Linked DNA regions of Homo sapiens: all the other regions are linked to region 3. The links come from fine-mapping of genetic effects on gene expression. A gene starts in region 3. Each other region holds a variant in brackets. All regions are shown on one strand. Distances are from middle to middle. Region 1 overlaps MIATNB (MIAT neighbor). Region 2 overlaps MIATNB (MIAT neighbor). Region 3 holds the start of MIATNB (MIAT neighbor).

What was found. PIP is the estimated chance that this variant, and not a neighbour inherited with it, causes the effect.
Region 1: its variant is the best candidate, but not a certain one, in a credible set for the expression of MIATNB in whole blood (INTERVAL, PIP 0.65).
Region 2: its variant is the best candidate, but not a certain one, in a credible set for the expression of MIATNB in whole blood (INTERVAL, PIP 0.84).

The regions. Positions count from the first base shown.
Region 1 is chr22:26,727,134-26,731,366 of GRCh38, reverse strand. All of the region lies in intron 2 of MIATNB (MIAT neighbor), which reads right to left. Among named protein-coding and RNA genes, the nearest start is that of MIATNB, 56 kb to the right of the region's middle. The variant A/G (reference allele first, on the strand shown) is at 2,010.
Region 2 is chr22:26,746,121-26,750,353 of GRCh38, reverse strand. The region is part of intron 2 of MIATNB (MIAT neighbor); the gene reads right to left. Among named protein-coding and RNA genes, the nearest start is that of MIATNB, 75 kb to the right of the region's middle. The variant G/A (reference allele first, on the strand shown) is at 1,943.
Region 3 is chr22:26,670,395-26,674,627 of GRCh38, reverse strand. MIATNB (MIAT neighbor) reads right to left here and starts at 1,785. Exons shown (of 6, transcript NR_110543.1): 1 at 1,641-1,785. It overlaps MIAT (myocardial infarction associated transcript), which reads right to left. Exons shown (of 5, transcript NR_033320.3): 5 at 1-4,233.

The sequences.
Region 1 (4,233 bases), 57 kb before region 3:
TTTTTTTATCACTGCTTCTGTCGCCCCTTAAATTTTGCACCCCAGAACAGTGCCTCATTTGGTTCATTTCCTAGTGTTGGCCCTGCAAAGCAGCACACTAAGCATGCTAAGGCCTGGGAAAACTGAGGAAACTAAACAGACACACAAATTACCCTCCTGGAGCTCTTAGTTTAGCAAACGAGGCAGATAAAAGCAAGTAAACAAGCAGATAAATAGAAAAATTATAAATTACAATAAGTCAAATGGTAGGAGCATGCCACTGAGAAGGGTGATAACTTACTCAGATGAAATGGTCAGCAACAAGCAACACCTTCTCTAAATCTCCAAGCTTCAAAGCCCCCGTCATTTTCCCCAATAGATTCCTAGTGTGCATTAAAGGGTTAACTTAGCAGACTTACGGTGTTCACACCCTGCATGTTCCAAAGAAAGCACCTGACTGACTGCTGGGAGAGTAACTCTAAGCTCTTGCAGTATCCTCCCTAACTCAAGTGTCTTTGTATACCTGGGCACTTGGGCCAAACCAGGCCAGACAATCTATGTAACCATGTGATTATATCACGTTGACTTCTGGAGGGGCTGGTGACCAAGTAATTAAGGTCATTCCATAGGTAACTCCACACCTATGTGACTGACCTCCAATTAAAACCCTGAACACCAAGGCTCAGGTGAGTTTCCATGGTTGGCAACACTCGATACATGTTGTCACCCATCATTGGTGGGAGAATTAAGCATGTTTGTAAGATTCCACTGGGAGAGGACAACTGGAAGTCTCTCCTGGACCCTGCCCTATGCACCTTTTTCTTTGGCAGATTTTAATCTGAATCCTTTTGTTGTAATAAACCATAACCATGAGGATAACAGGTCTTCTGAGTTCTGGGAGTCCTTCTAGTAAAGAACTTGAAATCACTCATGGAACCTGTCAGTGGTCCTGCGGACCCACAATGTAGTGGTTCTGATCTATCACAGCACTCATCACAGTTCATGACTGTGTGTATTAGTCTGTTCTCACGCTGCTAATAAAGACATACTGGAGACTGGGTAGTTTATAAAGGAAAGAGGTTTAATTGACTCTCAGTTCTGCAGGGCTGGGAAGGCCTCAGGAAACTTACAATCATAGTGGAAGGGGACATAAACATGTCCTTCTTCACGGGGTGGCAGGACAAAGAAGTGCCAAGCCAAAGGGGGAAAAGCCCCTTATAAAACCATCAGATCTAGTGAGAACTCACTCACTATCACCAGAACAGCATGAGGGTAAATGCCCCTGTGATTAAATTACCTCCCACCAGGTCCCTCCCACGACACGTGGGGATTATGGGAACTACAATTGAAGATGAGATTTGAGTAGAGACACAGCCAAACAATATCAATGTGTGTGTGTGTGAGGTCATGTGACCATAGACTAGACTTGCAATGTCCAACACAGCTGCCACTGACCAAATGTGGATGCCTAAGTTTAAATTAATTTAAATGAGATAAAGTTAAGACTTCCTCAGTTGCACCAGGCACATTTCAGTTGCAGCAGTCACATTTGGTTTGTGGCTACCACATGGAATGATTCTATCACCCTGAAAGTTACACTGGACTACACTAGACTAGATGGTGAGGCTTCAAGGGCATAGGGACTCCTTGCGACTTATTCATATCTGCGTTTCCAAGACCTCACACACAGTGGACACTCAATAATTACCAGTGAAAACAAACAAAAATATATTAAAAGACTAAATAGTGGAAAGAGCTCTTTTCCCCGCCCTATCTCTAATGCCGTGTGCTCTTGAGCAAGCTACTTGGCCACTCTAGGCTTTAGTTTTCCCAGCTGCAAAGATGTGTGTGTACTCTAGGGGTTTAAAGGTCCCTTCTGGCCATGCATGGTGGCTCACGCCTATAATCCCAACACTCTGGGAGGCTGAAGCAGGTGGATCACGTGAGGTCAAGAATTTGAGACCACCCTGGCCAACATGGTGAAACCCCATCTCTATAAAAATACAAAAATTACCCAGGCATGGTGGCAC[A/G]TGCCTGTAGACCCAGCTTACTCAGGAGGCTGAGGCAGGAGAATGGCTTGAACCCGGGAGGTAGAGGTTTCAGTGAGCTGAGATCGTGCCTCTGCACTCCAGCCTCGGTGACAGAGCAAGACTCTGTCCCAAAAAACTAAATTAAAAAATAAAAATAAAAACAGGTCGGGTGCGGTGGCTCACACCTGTAATCCCAACACTTTGTGAGGCCAAGAGGGGCAGATCACCTGAGGTCAGGAGTTTGAGACCAGCCTGGCCAACATGGTGAAACCTTGTCTCTACTAAAAATACAAAAAAAAATAGTTGGGCGTGGTGGCAAGTGCCTGTAATCCCAGCTACTTGGGAGGCTGAGGCAGGAGAATCGCTTGAACCCAGAAGGGGGGGGTTGCAGTGAGCTGAGATCACACCACTGCACTCCAGCCTGGATGACAAGAGCGAGACTCCATCTCAAAAAAATAAAAATAAAGATAAAATAAATAAGTAATAATAATAATAAAAGTAAAGGTTTCTTCAGGTCATGATATTCAAGACCAGGATCATAACAGAAACCTTGTGGTCTGGTGCCCTTCTCCTTTCACTGTGTGCTAGGTATAGCCTGAGACGGAATGGACCAGCTGTCAAGGGAGCTGAACAAACAGTGAAGGAATTGAGAAACAATCACTGGGTTTGCCCCAGTTGAGGAACTCTTCAAACTGCAAGCTCCATGATGGCATAGATTTGTTTGCCTCTTTGCTCATGGTTGTGTCCACCTCGAGTTCTAGCACAGTGCCTGGCACAAAGTAAGTGCTCAATAAACATTTCTGGAATGAGTGATTGACCCTAAGCACTGAACTTGCAGAGTCCAGAGATTGGCTCAGGGAGCATGTCCTTTGTCACATGTGGCACAACTCTGTGGCACCAGCCCCTGGCAGGATTAGAGCCCTTCACTAATAAGCCAATGGAATCAGCTTGGACCCCACTTGGTGACTTTCTGCTGTCTTGCTGCCTCATGCTCCAGTCCCAAAATGACCTTCAAAACCTATCTCCATCGCTGCACTGCTCAAAATCCTTCAGTGGCTCTCTGCTCTTCCCAGACAAAATAAAGCAACGTTTTTGTTGCATGTGACAAGGCATGAACTATCTTCATTTCTTTTCCATTTGAGAGCTCATGTTTTGCAGCAGGAAATTTGTAGCCAACGTTGGTCTGATACAGTGAGGGTACAACTGCTCACTGATACAGTGAGGTTACCTGGCTTGCGTCCTACACTCATTGCTATGATTTGAATGTTTTGTCTTCTCCAAAATCATGTTGAAACTTAATCCCCAATGCAGCAGTTTTGGGAGGTGGGGCTCCACCCTCATGAATAGATTAATGCCACTATGAAAAGGGTTTGCTAAAGTGTATTCACTCTCTTCTGCTTGTCTGCCATGTGAGGACACAGAGTTCACCCCTCTCTTGCCCTTCCACCTTCTGCCATGTGAAGATGCAGTAAGAAGGCCCACACCAGGTACCAGCATATTGATCTTGGACTTTCCAGCCTCCAGAACTGTAAAAGGATACATTTCTGTTCTTTACAAATTGCTGGGTTTCAGGTATTCTGTTAGAGCAGCAGAAAACGAACTAAGACACTCAATCTCAAGTTCTTCCTTTTGCTCTCCAATCTGGGCCTCCAAATCCTCCATCCAGTGCCCACCAAGTCCCCCGGCTATCACGCCTTGGGCATTGTCTCCTTTGCTATGCATCATACACCTTGATATAGTTTGGATATTTGCCTCTCCCCTGAAAATCTCATGTTGAAATGTAATCCCCAATGTTGGAGGTGGAGCTAGTGGAAGGTGTTTATGTCATAGGGGTGGAAGCCTCATGAATGGCTTGGTGCCCTCCCCATGGTAATGAGTTACCACAAGATCTGGTTGTTTTAAAAGGGACTGACACCTCTTTCCCACTCTCACTTGCTCCATCTTGTGACATGCCTGCTCCCCCTTCACCTTCTGCCATAATTGGAAGCTTCCTGAGGTCCTCCCCAGAAGCAGATGCTGGCGCCATCCCTCCTGTATAGCCTCCAGAATTGTAAGCCAAAATAAACCTCCTTTGTTTATAAATTACGCAACCTTGGGTATTCCTTTATAGCAATGCAAAATGGACTAACACACACCTCTCATACTATTAATAGGTCATCCAAAGAGCTTCTCCCCTAGGAGATGGGGCACAAGTCCACATACTCAGCAGTCTCCTTGAGGCTGT
Region 2 (4,233 bases), 76 kb before region 3:
GGTGCACACCTGTAGTCCCAGCTACTCGGTAGGCTGAGGCAGGAGAATTGCTTGAACCCGGAAGGTGGAGGTTGCAGTGAGCTGAGATTGTGCCACTGCACTCCAGCCTGGGCGGCAGAGCAAGACTCCATCTAAAAATAAAAAATAAGAAAATAAAAAATAAAAAATAAACCTGAGCCACTAGATTCCTTAAAGAACTAAAAGTAGAGCTACTATTTGATCCAGCAATCCTACTACTGGGTATCTAGCCAGAGGAAAAGAAAGTCATCATACAAAAAAGATATTTGCCCACACATGTTTATAGCAGCACAATTCGCAATTGCAAAAATATGGAACTAGCCCAAATGACCATCAATCAACGAGCGGATAAAGAAAAGGTGATATATAGATATATATACACCATGGAATACTACTCGGCCATAAACAGGAATAAAATCGAAGCATTCACAGCAACCTGGATGGCATTTGAGACCATTATTCTAAGTGAAGTAACTCAGGAATGGGAAACCAAACATTCCACACTTACAAGTGATAGGTTAGCTTTGAGGACACAAAGGGATAAAAATGACAGAATGAATTTTGCGGACTCACGGGAAAGGGTGGGAGGGGGTGAGGGATAAAAGACTACACATTGGGTATAATGTAGACTGCTGGGGTGAGGGGTGCACCAAAATCTCAGAAATCACCATTAAAAACTTATTCATGTAACCAAACACCATCTGCTCCCCAAAAACCAATTGAAATAAAAAATAAAATTAATAAATTAATAAAAAAAATTTTTAAAAACCTGAGTCACTGTAACTGAGAATTTAGGAGGTATTAGTTATATTGCAGCATATCACAGTCCACTCTGACTGTTACATCATCAGACTGAACCAAAATCCTGCGGCTGGCCCTCCTTGAGTCTCATCTCTGAATCAATCACTGTAGGCTGAGGGCAGCAGTACTCGATTGGCTCAGACCTGGTTCACTGGCCATGCCTACCTCCAGTGAGGGAGGAGAAGGAGTCACCTCTACCCATGTTGTTGGGCTTGGCATGGCCAAGGGTGGCTTTTCAAGGAAGATGGCATGCTGTTACCAGAAAGCGGGGCAGTTGCTGAAAAGGAGATACGAACACGTGTCCACTTTGAGGGCCTCATAGCCAAATGCTGTGCAAGAGGTTCCTACGCTGAATGGGAGACAAGTTCCCAGGCTGCTGCTGCTTCTCACAAGTCTCTGAAATTTGCCTGGAAAAAGATTCTATTGATTTTTTCTGGGTAACGTGGCTTCTTCCCTCAAAGAAGTCCTTTGGTTGCCGGGAGGCCTGCCAGGCAAGGGGTTGGCTTTCCCCAGGAAGGGTGGAGAAGACTAGGCTGGGGTAGGGAAATCAAGGGGAGAAGGAATGGCCAGCTGCCCCTAGCTGCCCAGGGAGAGGGAGGAGGCCAAGCTTGCTCAGAGCAGTAGTTGGAGACTAGCACGGACACCCCTGTGATCCTTTTTTCTAAAACCCAGATCTTTTGCCTTCACTTCTCTCCTTAAAAACCTTACATGGCTCCTTGCAAACTAAAATCAGCGTTGATTTCTATGCCAGGCACTGAACAACGTATTCCATTTACATTGTTATCCCCCCTAAAACTTCATAAGCAGCTATTAGAGTTTAGAGTTTTAACTCGTGAAAAATATGAGCAAATGAATGCTCAGAATCACAAGTGGCAGAACCAAGGTCACAGAACTCAAAACAGAGCTCCTAGTCTTCACCCACCCATTCAACTTGCCTTAAAAAAAAAAAAAGCTATAGGCCAGGCACAATGGCTCATGCCTGTAATCCCAGCACTTTGGGAGGCCGAGGTGGACAGATCACGAGGTCAGGAGTTCGAGACCAGACTGTCCTATATGGTGAAACCCCGTCTCTACCAAAAAATACAAAAATTAGGTGGGCGTGGTGGTGCTCCCCTATAGTCCC[G/A]GCTACTTGGGAGGCTGAGGCAGGAGAATCACTTGAACCTGAGAGGCAGAGGTTGCAGTGAGCCGAGATTGCGCCACTGCACTCCAGTCTGGCCAACAGAGTGAGATTCCATCTCAAAAAACAAAAAAGCTATAAAAATTGAAAAAACAATCTGATGAATACAAAGAGAAATAAAAGAGATAATTAACCTTTACTTGCCACACTCATTCCAGCTACTCTCCCAAGGAAGCACCATTAACTCTTTGTTGAACATCCATCCTGACCTCTCTCTATGGTCAAATAATATGTTTGAGCATTTATTGAGAGCCAAGAATGTGCCAGGGCATCGGAGGTTATTTTCACAGAGAGTGCTTCTCAGGGATGTACAAATTCCCATGCAATTCCATCTATTTTTTTAATGACCTTAACTAGTCAGAGCACATGGCTGAAGAAACTGACAAGTAAACATTTATTGCTAAAACCCAATAGATTAGGTCCCTTTGCAGCTCCAAATTTCCCAACAATCCACACTTCACCTAGAGGAAAGCCAAAGTCCCTGCATCCACCCAGAGGCCCTACAGAATCTGGTCCCTTGGTCACCTCTCCAACTTGGACCTCACCATCTGCCACCCTCTCCCTTCACTTCCTCCAGTAATATCTCACTTTTTTTCAAAAGGCCCCCAGCACGTCCTGCCTCAGAGCCTTTGCACCTGCTGATCCCTGTCCCTGAAACACCCTTCTCCCAGATACCCCCACGGCTCACATCCTCGCCTCCTTTGAAGTCTTTGCTCAAATGTCTCTTTTCCTTAACTAAACTGGACTCTCCCCATCCCCAACAAACACACGAAACCCATTTTACCTTCTTTGTTTCCTCATAGCATCTATTACTGTCCAACATAGTATACAAACCTTGTTTTATCATCTTCCACCACTCACTAGGATGTAGCTTCAGTGAAGTGAGGAATGTGTGTCTATTTTGTTCCCAGCTAAATCCCCAAGGCCTTAGAACAATGCCTGGCATACAGTGGGTGCTTCATAAATGTTTGTTGAATGACTCCATTAATTTAAAGAAGCCATAGTTCAGGCAGCAACATGGCTCAGACAAGATTGAATACTTTTTAGAGCATGTGAACCTCTTTCTTTTTGGAGCCGGCATCCAGCACTGTGAAACTTGAAAAGATCAGCATGCCAGAAGGAATGCAGGGGTTAGGGGAGCAGTCAAAGGGGACTTTCTCCCAAAGTCATTTTCTGCAGATCCCCTTTCCCAGTTCAGCCCAGGGTTGAGGAGTGACATCCCAAATCAGAGGGACCGCAAATCAGATATCCTCAACCCGTCCCTGAGCGATCTCCTTTCCCCTGGATCTACCAGAAACAGGGGTCCTAGAAAGTTGAAAGTCAAAAGCAGGGGTCTTTGGGACCCAGCTTTCGGGGGCAGCTCAGGCTCATCCTGAGGCTGGTGCTGTGGGCTCAGTTCTCCAGGTATGATTTATGCCTATGGCCGAACTTTATTTTCTACTTTTTTGGATTCTGCTCTGAATTTTTTTCTTCTTGGCCTTTTCCTGGGTCAATGCAGTCTTGTTATTTGATTTACTGTTAACAGTATTGACTGCATAGGATTGAGCCAAGAAATGGAAGAAATTGCTTTTTCTCTCTTTCTATCTCCTGTTTGACAACTCAGTCTTAGCACTGGATTTAGCCAAGCTCTGTGAGAGCCAAGGGAGGCAAAGGAAGTGGGAGTGTTGTGGCTTTGCGGCTGGAAGGTGACCCTGGGAGGAAAATGGCAAGGAATTGTCATTGAAAAGGTCCTGTGGCTGTTTTACCTTCTAAATAAGATAAAGATACAGAGAGGGTGTGTTTGAAGTATGGGCTTCAAAGTCAACTAGCCTTGGGTTTAAGCTGTGTGGCTTTGGGCAAGTCACTTAACCTCTCTGAGCCTCAGTTTCCCCATTCCTAAGACAGATGTAATAATCTCCTCCTCACAGGTGGACTTACAGTGCTCATGCATAAGAAACACTTTGAATCAAACCTGGGTCATTCTAGGAGCACAATTTATTGTACCTGTTACTGTCACCACCATCATCACCATCATCATCATCATCCTCACTCTATTATTGTGTCATCTTTGTTTTGTCCAAATAAAGAAACAAGCATTCATTCAATTCCATGGAAAGGACTTGAGAAGCCTAGAGACTTTTAAGTAGCTGTTTATTGTGGTAAAATATAACAAACATAAAATGTATTGTTTTAACCATGTTTAAGTACACAGATCAGTAGCATTAAGTTCATTATTGTCAACTGTCACCACCATCCAG
Region 3 (4,233 bases):
TGCAGCTCAGGCCTCTGGATCACCCTTCACCCCCACTGCCAACTACAATTGGTTAGCTCTGAGTCCACAGTTGCCAGAGAAAAGGGCTCTCAGCACCAGACTAGCATTCAACGACCCAAGCAACCTGCCTCTAAGGTCTGTAAGCCAGCCTTTGACCTGTCCCTAAACTGATCCAATCCTCCAGGCCCTGCCTTGAACTGTCTTCTCCTGCAGACTCTGACTACCAGACTGAGTCAGCAAAACCTTGAACTAGTGCCACCTTTTACCTGCACCTGGAATCCCTTGCGTATGCTCCCTGCCCCTCTACTCCCAAAGGACGTTCCCTCAGTCTAAAGAGATCAAAAGTCCCTTCCAGAAAAACTCCCGTTTCCTCGGTGCAGCTAAATTGCACAGAAGAGTTTATGCTAGAAGAGCTAAAAGTTAGAACAGGAAGCTCAGATAATTTATACTACTAACATGTAAATGACTGACGGAGTTATAACCCTTCTGAATACTCTGATCTAAAGCTTTATGTCCTAGAACTTCCAAAACACAAAGTCCCCAAAATGAAGACTCTAGGCCCTGGCCTGGGGAAGGGTGACTCTATACAAAATGGCATATGCTCTGTAGACACCAGACAGGTATTTTAAGGTTTATAAGAGCTGCATCTACTTGTGCAAACTACTGTAGCTATAAGGCTATATTTTTTTAAGAACTGAAACCAAATGCAGACTATGAGGAGTGAAGATATGCCCAATGGCCAAAACCTTGCAAGACTGGCTATACTTCTGACCCCACCTTGGTGGGTACCACTGCTCCATCAGGCCTGGTCCACACCAGAGCCCTGGCACCTCCTTTAGAAAACTACCATCTTTACCGACTTCTGATTGTTCTGACTCAGAGCAGCCACCACGCCCAAAATTGTTAGCTATGCTTTTCCCTGTGTTAGTCAAGTTCAAACCTGTGTTAGCCAAGTTCAAACCTGTGTTAGCCAAGTTCAAAGCTGTGTTAGCCCCTTCCCAGCCATGCCGACATCCAAGCTGTTAACAGTAACGAGGAATGTTAGACCTGTTGTTAGTCAGAAAAAAATCCACAAACCATTAGTTTCTGCTGAAAGGAACAGACCAGGAAGGCAGGAGTTAGTCAAGGTGAAGGAAAGGTTAATTAAGAACCGGTCAGGGCCAGGCCAGGAGCCTGGAACCCCCAGACAGGGCCAGGTTGGTTGTTAGTGGTCAGCCCCTGGGGCAGTCAGGGTGAGGCAGGGATTAGCTGGGTGAGAGCAAGAGTTAGCGCAAGGGAGCCAGAGATTAGCCCAAAGAAACCAAGGTGCCTACTGGAGGTGAGGCATGAAATCACCCCCAGGTGTGGCCCCGGCTTAGCGGCTGGCGGGCTCTGGGGGAGGCTGGCTGAGGCAGTGACGTCCGTGGGAACAGAGAGCCAGAGATGCATTCCTGGCCGGCCTGAGCATCTGCGGGAACCCTGTGAGCCCCTGAGGTTCACTTCTTGCTCCCCACTTCTCTCTCCTGCAAACTCCGAGCCCGGGGTAAAGCTGCTTCCCCTCCCCACACCCCTTTTCAACCCGACAACTAACGCCCTCTAGCTTCCGGGAATGGGACGGATCTTTCCCAAGGACTTCCGGTCACGGCCCCACGTCTACTTACGGTGGGGGAAACCGGCCTCTCTCGGCTCCAGAGAGGGGAGACGGCTCTCTAGCTGACTTCCTGTGTGGGAAAGAGTCCTCTCACTGACTTCCGGTGTCAGAAATGTCCCTCTTTCCGGCCTTCAAATATGAGAAATGTTTCTCTGGCCGACTTCCTGTGTACTAAATACTCCACTCAGTGGTTTTTAGCGTAGGAAAGACCCGCTTCATTGACTTCCGGTGTAAGAAAGGCTCCGCTTTCTGACTTCCGGTGTGGGACACGCCCCTCTGCTAATTTCCGGTGAGGGGCACGCCCCCTCCTGCCTTCCTCGTGGGATACGCCCCCCTCGTGACTTCCTGTGCAGGACAGCTTCTATCCCCGTCACTTAACAATGGAGAGGATTCTTCCCCAGCTTCCTTCCAGAGGACACAAAAGCTCAGAGCTCCACAGTCTAGAGTCTAGACCAACAGGCCTCCACACTCACGTCCCAGAGATTTCCCTGGTCCCACCTACTCCCAGTGGCAACCAGACTTCTGCACATAGGAGAGATGTCATACTCAGAGTCCAGCCTCCCACATCCACAGGACCACCTCTTCCTCCTCTGAGTCTTGTTAATAGGGCCATCCCCTGCCTTAGACCTGGCCCAGTGGACTCTGATCTTACAGCCAATATGGGGCAGCAAAGTGGGACATCTGTCTACAGGGCCAGTAGCCCCAGGTCATCTGCTTGCCAAAAGGAGGGGGACCAGCCCCCGGGGGGAGCCCAGAGCTCGGCAGGGCTGGGGTTAGTAAGAAGAGAAAACAGGGTTAGTAGGGGCTGGGTTAGTAAGTCAGAGCACAGCACCAGCGGACAGGGCACCTCAGCAGACACACACAGGAGTCGCTAAGAGAAAAGGAAGAACGCACGCAGGTCCGTTAGTTTGTTAAGGGATGATCGGGGTGCAGTTGAGGCACCCCAGGGGTTAGACGGGTTAGTAATCGAACAAAAGAGCTGCCTACAGAAAAGAAAGCTGAGACGGAGGAAGAATGTGGGGAAGTGACATGGATTCAAAGCCAAGTGTCTTGCCCCAGGCAGAAGGATCTGTGTGCAGAACACCCAGAGAGGCCAGGGCCTAGGCAGCAGACGTGTTCAACCAGGTTTGAGGGGCCTTCCTCCATCCTCATACTTTTTTTTTTTTTAGGTGTCTGCCATGTGCTGAGACCCTTATATTGACGGGAATCCTCACTGCAACCTGTAAGGTATCAGAACTCGCATTCTACCACTGAGGAAACTGAGGTTGAGAGAAGTGAGGTGACTTACTCAAACTCACTCAACAGGAAGTGGCAGAGTTGGTGAGTCTTATTTGCATTCTCTGTCCTGGAACGTGGGTCTGCACAAAGATCCCAGCCCATAGGCAGAGCCTTCTGGAGCCTTGGCTGCCCCCATATCCCAGCCCCTTGAAAGGCCCATGAGCTGCACAGTTAGTAGGATCTGGCTGCGGGGGGGTGGTTAGTAGGGCATGCTCGGGCCTGGTTAGTGGGTTAGTTGGTTGGCAGAAGGCCAGGCACCTCGTCACACGCCACAGCGTCCCGGCTGAGCCCTGGGTTAGTAGGTTAATCACACCATGCAACACTGCCCCGGCCCCTCCAGCTGCAGCTTCAGAGGCCTCCCGCCCCCACCAGCCAGGGAGTGGGGCCTGACCAGGGCAGGGGGTCTAACTCTAAGCCCCCCAGCCCCATCAAAATCAACCCTAACCACATGGACCCTGCCCAAAAGCATGTTGCTTCCCTATTTATTGGCTGTGGGTCTCAGAGCACCCCCTGCAAATATTTCAGCTCCCCTGAAAATGGACCCTACTTGTCCTAGACAGAAACCCCCTGCCTGGTTCTGGTCAGCCCCTTCCCAGAGGGCTGGATCCTGTTACACTCTGACAGACACACGCACACCCGCATCTCTCCGCAAAAGATCTGACAACCGTGCTTAGTAGACATCTCTTCCATCACCGACTGTCAGGCCTCTAGTTTCTCCAACTATTGGCCTGCCCTCCCACCATTAGAAAAAAAAAAAACGCATCAAGCTGGCCTGGCTCCTGGAACCAAGTTGAGACTCCCCCACGCCCACCCGGTCTGCTTCCTTTTCAGCCAATGCTACAAAGCACCTAAGTGTACCCTAATTATGCCATCTTCTATCACTGCTGTACTTTTCCCATAGAAACCCCAGCCTAGCATCTCCCACAGTTCTAAACGATGTTCCATGAGAAAAAGATTCTACGGCCATAAAAGTCAAGGAACACTTCATCCTATGCCCTGTCCCTGAGTATTTGAAATTGCCATTAGCATTTTAAAGGTTCTGATAAGTCCTGCACTACTTCAGTAGTGCAGCGGAATTTGAATTAGAACCTGCTTTTTTTTTTTTTTTTTTTTTTTTAAGGAGCAATGACATTTCCTAGAAGTTACTTTAAGAATTTCCCTAGAGGGTCGGGTATCATCTCAGCCAGATCTTTCTCATCCTTCAAGGCCCTGTTTGGTACAGCTTGCTAGGAAGCTGTTCCAGACTGCAGCAGCCCTCTCTGGGGTCTCTCTACCACTTCCCAGGCACTCAGAACTTGTGCCTCAGTAGACTGTTTTGTGGCACT